Homo sapiens: one gene and its partner. The protein of the gene in region 1 purifies or fractionates together with the protein of each later gene. This does not show direct contact. Each region holds a gene or a part of one and is shown on either strand. Other genes may lie near its edges.

The links.
Region 2: the proteins of C8orf76 (region 1) and PLCB3 purify together in Homo sapiens (affinity purification with mass spectrometry; one large-scale study listed by BioGRID and IntAct). This does not show direct contact.

The regions. Positions count from the first base shown.
Region 1 is NC_000008.11:123,231,353-123,235,167, reverse strand, and holds part of C8orf76 (uncharacterized protein C8orf76), read left to right. Parts: intron 1-3,410; coding exon 3,411-3,815. Other genes in the region: ZHX1-C8orf76 (zinc fingers and homeoboxes protein 1), read left to right, coding at 3,411-3,815.
Region 2 is NC_000011.10:64,257,958-64,261,772, forward strand, and holds part of PLCB3 (1-phosphatidylinositol 4,5-bisphosphate phosphodiesterase beta-3), read left to right. Parts: intron 1-515; coding exon 516-756; intron 757-927; coding exon 928-1,012; intron 1,013-1,100; coding exon 1,101-1,287; intron 1,288-2,071; coding exon 2,072-2,277; intron 2,278-3,442; coding exon 3,443-3,539; intron 3,540-3,623; coding exon 3,624-3,708; intron 3,709-3,815. UniProt on the Homo sapiens protein: Catalyzes the production of the second messenger molecules diacylglycerol (DAG) and inositol 1,4,5-trisphosphate (IP3).

The DNA of each region.
Region 1 (3,815 bases):
ACTGTGGTAAGAAAATGGCTTTCTGGTAGTAAGTGACTCCTTTTCATTTATCCACTCAGCACTCAACAAACATTTCAGTCCTACTATTTTCCTGGTTCTGGGTTCGATGCTAAGGAGACAAACAATATATCGTGTACATGCAGTGCTCATCTAGTGTCTGGTCGGTTTAGCCAGCGCACATATACATCAGCTCTTTTTTTCTTTTTGAGATGGAGTCTTGCTCTGTTGCCCAGGCTGGAGTGCAGTGGTGCGATCTTGGCTCACTGCAGCCTCCTCCTCCCAGGTTCAAGCAATTCACCTGTCTCAGCCACCCAAGTAGCTGGGATTATAGGCATGTGTCACCACACCTGGCTACATTTTTTTTTGTTTTTTTGTTTTTGTTTTTGTTTTTTTGTTTTTTAGATGGAGTCTCGCACTGTCGCCCAGGCTGGAGTGCAGTGGCGCGATCTTGGCTCACTGCAACCTCCGCCTCCTGGGTTCAAGCGATTCACCTGTCTCAGCCACCCAAGTAGCTGGGATTAGAGGTGCCCGCCACCACATCTGGCTAATTTTTTGTATTTTAGTAGAGACGGGGTTTCATCATGTTGTCCAGTCTGGTCTCGAACTCCTGAGCTCAGGCAGTCCACCCGCCTCAGCCTCCCGAAGTACTAGGATTATAGGGATGAGCCAATGCGCCCAGCCTTTTTTGTATTTTTAATAGAGACAGGGTTTCACCATGTTGGCCAGGCTGATCTTGAACTCCTGACCTCAAGTGATCTGCCCACCTCGGCTTCCCAAAGTGCTGAGATTACAGGGGTGAGCCACCTTGCCTGGCCATATCAGCTCTTCGTAAGTACCTTTTATTCCTTGACTTTTAGTATAACTGACTGTAGCTCTCCTGCTTACCAGCCACGTTATGGCAGGCAAGTTATCTAACCTCTCTGTGACCCAGTTGCCTTATCTGTAACATAAGGAAAATTACTGAATCTATTTTAAAGCACTGTCAGGAGGATTAAATGAGGAAAACACTTAGAATAGTGCCTGGCACTGCGTAAACACTCAGTAAATGTTAACTGTCATCATCATGTTATTGTTACAGAAAGAGTTGCAGTATTCTGGAAAAATCACTCACTCATTTAAATAGATTTTTTTTTTTTTTTTGAGATGAAGTCTCGTTCTGTTGCCCAGGCTGGAGTGCAGTGGCATGATCTTGGCTCACTGCAAGCTCTGCCTCCCGGGTTCATGCCATTCTCCTGCCTCAACCTCCTGAGTAGCTAGGACTACAGGTGCCCGCCACCACACCTAGCTAATTTTTTGTATTTTTAGTAGAGATGGGGTTTCGCCATGTTAGCCAGGATGGTCTCGATCTCCTGAACTCATGATCCGCCCGCCTTGGCCTCCCAAAGTGCTGGGATTACAGATGTGAGCCACCACGCCCGGCCTAAATAGAATTTAATTTCCAGAAGGAGTTTACTAATCCACCTCTCAAAACCCTACTATTGACAGGGCGCAGTGGCTCATGCCTGTATTCCCAGCACTTTGGGAGGCCGAGGTGGGCGAAGGTCAGGAGTTCAAGACCAGCCTGGCCAACATGGTGAAACCGCATCCCTAATAACAATTTTAAAAACTCTCTTGGTGTGGTGGTGGGCACCTGTAGTCCCAGCTACTTGGGAGGTTGAGGTGGGAGGACTGCTTGAACCTGGGAGGTGGAGATTGCAGTGAGTCGAGATCACGCCACTGCACTCCAGCCTGGGCAAAAGAATGAGACTCCATCTCAAACAAACAAAACCCTGTCATCAGGATCATAGTTTGTGAGTAACAGCCTCCACCCTAACACACACTTGCTTTATCAATATCAAAATGTTTTTGAGGCTGGGCACAGTGGTTCATGCCTGTAAGCCCAGCACTTTCAGAGGCCGAAGGGGGTGGATCACTTGAGGTCAGGAGTTCGAGACCAGCCTGGCCAACATGGCAAAACCCTGTCTTTACTTTATGCAAAAATTAGCTGGGTGTGGTGGCAGGCACCCGTCATCCCAGCTACTCCGGAGGCTGAGGCAGGAGGATTGCTTGAACCAGGGAGGCAGAGGTTGCGGTGAGCTGAGATCGCACCATTGCACTCCAGCCTGGGCGACGAGAGCGAAACTCTGTCTCAAAAAAAAAAAAAGTTTTTGAACAATATAAAGCCCTATAGACTGGTTACAGAAGAAGGGTAGCATTTGTTACAGATGTAGTCTATACATGTTGTTTTCCTTATAAATGACATGATTTGACTTTAGAAAAGTCATTACTCAAACGTGATTTAACATCTGTGATGGCCGAGGAGCTGTGCTCTGTACTAGGAATTTACATTGAACAAAAGCTCTTATGGAGCTAAATGGTCTGTTGGGAAGGACAGATGCTGAACAATAGTAACAATAAAACGAGATGTGTTCTGTCTTTGGGAAGGTACAGTGTCAGCAAATCAGTCGTATGGGGCTTTATCTCCTATCTTTTCACTCAATGTGGGAATATTTAGAGCTGCCCGCAGGCCTTCACTTGCTGGTGTACAGTTTCCTGGGGCCGTACACCAGGTAGTTTTGCTCATGTTTCATGCTCAGTGTGGTTCTGTGAGGGAGCCTGATCTGGACGCTTGCAGGCCAGGCTTTCCTTAGACCTCACATCAACTTGAAGGTAATTTGAGTCTGCCATCTGCTCTCCGCAAACTTCAACTTACAAAAAGCAGGCCTGTTTTTACTAACCCAGAGGACATTTGCCATATGGCAAGTTAGGCAAGAGATGTTGGCGCTGGTTAAGGAGATTTGAAAAGGATTTTCTGATCAAAAGGAAACTAAGCAACCCCTTTTGGCCAAAAATTATAATTGACCTTGGTAATGGTTACCAGGGAAGGCATTTGGATTCAATTAGAATGCGTCATGAAGCATGGAGAGCTTCAGGGCTATCCTGTTTAAAATGTCTAAGCCAAATAAAATTTGGAAGTGGAGTTTGTTCAAATCCTCAAGGAAATTACCATTTGGATTTTTAGAAAGCCTTGAATATTACAATGGAATCATTAGGCCAGGATCTAAGAAAAGTGGCTGGGTCTTTCAGATACCTGGCTGAAGACAGTAAAGATTATAATAAAAATTGGAAATAAATGGATATTTATGTTTTTGATGCTGAACATTTGGCAGGCCACCATCTAGGAATTGTTAAGTTATTATGACATTAGGATGTTTGGGAATGGCTGGTGACTCTTTCTCTAGGTAGCATATATCTCTCTGGGTTTACGGTTTCAAACATGAGATATATTGAAATATATTTAGGTCACTCGTATAGCTACTGAAAGATACTTCTAATTTATAACATATACAACTTGGTTTTTTAGGCATTCTCATTTTATATGGAAAATGCTTTGAAGTTTAAACTTCTTAACCTTTTTTTTTTCTCCTTAGGAAAATAAAGCAACCAACACAGACCATTTAACCACGGTACTCTACCTCCAGCTTGCTATTTGTTCAAGTTTGCAGAACTTGGAGAAAACAATTTTCTGCCTGCAGAAACTGATTTCTTTGCATCCTTTTAATCCTTGGAACTGGGGCAAATTGGCAGAGGCTTACCTGAATCTGGGGCCAGCTCTTTCAGCAGCACTTGCGTCATCTCAGAAACAGCACAGTTTCACCTCAAGTGACAAAACTATCAAATCCTTCTTTCCACACTCAGGAAAAGACTGTCTTTTGTGTTTTCCTGAAACCTTGCCTGAGAGCTCTTTATTTTCTGTGGAAGCGAATAGCAGTAATAGCCAGAAAAATGAGAAAGCTCTGACAAATATCCAAAACTGTATGGCAGAAAAGAGAGAA
Region 2 (3,815 bases), on another chromosome or scaffold:
AGCCTGGCCAACATGGTGAAACCCCATCTCTACTAAAAATACAAAAATTAGCCAGGCATGGTGGTGGGCAACTGTAATCCCAGCTACTCGGGAGGCTGAGGCAGGAGAATCGCTTGAACCAGGGAGGCGGAGGTTGCAGTGAACCGAGGTTGTGCCACTGCACTCCAGCCTGGGTGACAGAGCGAGGTTCCGTCTCAAAAAAAAAAAAAAAAGAGATTGGATTGGAGGCAGGGAGGGCTGGAGTCTTCCACACAGGAGGTGGTGTGAGCTGTGCCAGGGCTGAGGTGGGTGGAGGGAGTGAGGAGAGGGAGGGATTGTTGAGGCAGTGGGGAGCTATAGTGAGTCTCAGGGATGACTCCCCCCAGCTCACGCTGGTGGGATGGACAGGTGGTGGGTATCCATCTGAGAGATGGAGAGCCCTCTGCAAATCCAGCATGTCCTGGTTCCAGGTGGGGCCGGGGTGGTGAGGAGCTGGGCTGGTGGGCGGCCTCGGTGACAGAGCCTCGCCGCCCCAGCGGGGCAGCTGGCTGGGACCTCGTCGGTGGAGATGTACCGCCAGGCACTACTATGGGGCTGCCGCTGCGTGGAGCTGGACGTGTGGAAGGGACGGCCGCCTGAGGAGGAACCCTTCATTACCCACGGCTTCACCATGACCACAGAGGTGCCTCTGCGCGACGTGCTGGAGGCCATTGCCGAGACTGCCTTCAAGACCTCGCCCTACCCCGTCATCCTCTCCTTCGAGAACCATGTGGACTCGTGAGTGAGCCCCTGGCATGAAACCCCATGGACCGGGGGACAGTCTTCCAGCTTCAGTGCTGTTGGACTGCTCAGGGACCTCCAACCCTGCGAACGGCCACTGACATGTCCCGTAGACCTCAGCTTCCTCTCTGGGGGAGGGATCTCTGACCTCTGACCTCGGTTCCGCAGGGCAAAGCAACAGGCAAAGATGGCTGAGTACTGCCGCTCCATCTTTGGAGACGCGCTACTCATCGAGCCTCTGGACAAGTACCCGGTACGGGAGCTCGGAGCGAGGGGGGTGGCATGGGGGCCAGGGTGCTGCGGACCCGGTCCAGGGCCCTGACTCGTCCATGCCTGCCCAGCTGGCCCCAGGCGTTCCCCTGCCCAGCCCCCAGGACCTGATGGGCCGTATCCTGGTGAAGAACAAGAAGCGGCACCGACCCAGCGCAGGTGGCCCAGACAGCGCCGGGCGCAAGCGGCCCCTGGAGCAGAGCAATTCTGCCCTGAGCGAGAGCTCCGCGGCCACCGAGCCCTCCTCCCCGCAGCTGGGTAGGCCCCAGCCCGGCCCGCCACCCTGACTTGACCCTAGCCTCTGGCCTCATGCTCCAGGCGCCGTGACACTTCATCCCAGACCCCCAGCCCACCCTCCTGCCTCGCTGTGCGCCTGTTCCCACAACCGGCCTGTCTCCTCACCACCTGTCGGCTGGTGTGGGGCCTCTGACCCCTGACCTCAGGTGCACGTCTCACCCAGCTGCACCCCAACTCCTGACTCCCAACCTCAGCCTCTCACCTCTCAGAGCCTTCCCACAACCCGGTGATGGCTCTGAAGGCTGACCTCTGACCTCAGTAAACCACATCCCACACTGGGTGTGACCTCAGACCCCTAAGCCCGCATTGAGTTCACCTGCCCAGTTGGTTATCATTTCAGCTGACCTCTGACCTCTCACCCCTGACTGTTCACCTCACTATGCCCCCTCCTTAGACATGGCTCTGACTTACCCCTGACCTGTAACCTCTCTATGTCATCCCTTACCCCGCTATTAGGGCTGTGGTATGCTACTTCCTGACTTCTCACCCCACTGAACCACCCTATCTGCCTCCCTGCTGAATATCACTGCAGACCTTTACCTTTGACCTATGACCCCTCTCAACCCATACTGGGTTAATACCATCTGACCTCGACCTCTTGGCCTCTCCCCAAGCCACACTGCCCTGAGAGTACCCCTTGAATTCCCCACTGAGTCACCTCGGCACACACTGGGAAAAACCCCTCCAGACTTCCTAAGCAGCTGTGTGGTCCTGACCCCTCACCCTGTGGCCCTGTCCTCTGCAGGGTCTCCCAGCTCTGACAGCTGCCCAGGCCTGAGCAATGGGGAGGAGGTAGGGCTTGAGAAGCCCAGCCTGGAGCCTCAGAAGTCTCTGGGTGACGAGGGCCTGAACCGAGGCCCCTATGTTCTTGGACCTGCTGACCGTGAGGATGAGGAGGAAGATGAGGAAGAGGAGGAACAGACAGACCCCAAAAAGCCAACTACAGATGAGGTCAGGCCCACAGGGTGGGCAGGTCGGGGAGGTAGCATCTATTTACCTCCCAGGGGGCTGGGTCTGACCATCAACAAGACTGACATCACCCCTGCCTCCTGGGGCTCAGTGTGGGTGTGAGTGAAGGTGGGAGGAGGGCTCTTCAGTCATCAGGCATGGAAACAAGCATACAGTTCTGCTGGTGATGTGGCCTGGGAGGTGCGAGTTAGGGTACAGAACTGGCAGAGGATAGGGAGTCTACCCTGGGCAGGGAGGTGGGGCAGGGAGACCTCAGGAAGGGGGACAGCATGTACAAAGGTCCTGGGGCAGGGCCAGGGGGTGCAGGAGCGGGGAGCATTGTCATGGGGAGCATTGAGTAGCTGTGAGGAATGGTACAGAAAAAATCAGTCTGAGCTGGGCGTGGTGGCTCACACCTGTGATCCCAGCTACTCGGGAGGCTGAGGCATGAGAATCCCTTGAACCTGGGAGGTGGAGGTTGCAGTGAGCTGAGATTGCACCATTGCACTCCAACGTGGGCTAAAAAGGGAGACACTATCTCAAAAAAAAAAAAAAAAAAAAAAGACATCATTGCTATAAAGACAATTACTGGAGCAATTAGTGAAATTTAAAGATGGACTACATATTAGATAATATGTTAATGTTTTGTTTCCTGAATTTAATTATTGTATTGGAGTTATAGAAGAGAATGTCCATATATGCTGAAGTATTTATGGGTAAAGGGTCATGATGTCTATAATTTACTCCCAAATGATTCAGTAAAAGTAATGATAATTATAACACCTATATGGGCCAGGCGAGGTGGCTCATGCCTGTAATCCCAGCACTTTGGGAGGCTGAGGTGGGCGAGTCACCTGAGGTTGGGAGGTTCCAGACCAGCCTGGCCAACATGGTGAAACCCCATCTCTACTAAAAATACATAAATTAGCCGGGCAAGGTGGCGGGCGCCTGTAATCCCAGCTACTTGGGAGGCTGAGGCAGGAAAATTGCTTGAGCTGGGTGGTGTCCAGGGCGCATCAGTGAGACCCCGGGGAGAAGACTGTCGGCACCACCAGCAGTGTGTATATAGTGCTGGGAAGAGGGTCAGCACCTCCTTCATGGGGGGCAGGTGAGGGAATGGCCAGCTGTGGCGGGAATGGCACTGCTGACCCTGGGTTGGGGCCCACAGGGCACAGCCAGCAGCGAGGTGAATGCCACTGAGGAGATGTCCACGCTTGTCAACTACATCGAACCTGTCAAGTTCAAGTCCTTTGAGGCTGCTCGAAGTGAGTGGGGGTGGGTGGCAGGCATGGGAGCTTGCCCAGCTCAGCCCTGCCAGGTCTGACGCCCTTTCTTGGCTCACCCCTAAGAGAGGAACAAATGCTTCGAGATGTCGTCCTTTGTGGAGACCAAGGCCATGGAGCAACTGACCAAGAGCCCCATGGAGTTTGTGGAGTATCCTTTGAAGGTGCTGTGGGCGGGCAGGCCAGGGTGGGGCGCTCGGAGGCCGGCTCCGGTGTTCTGTCCCCACATATGCCACCTGCACAGGGTGCTGGCCCTCC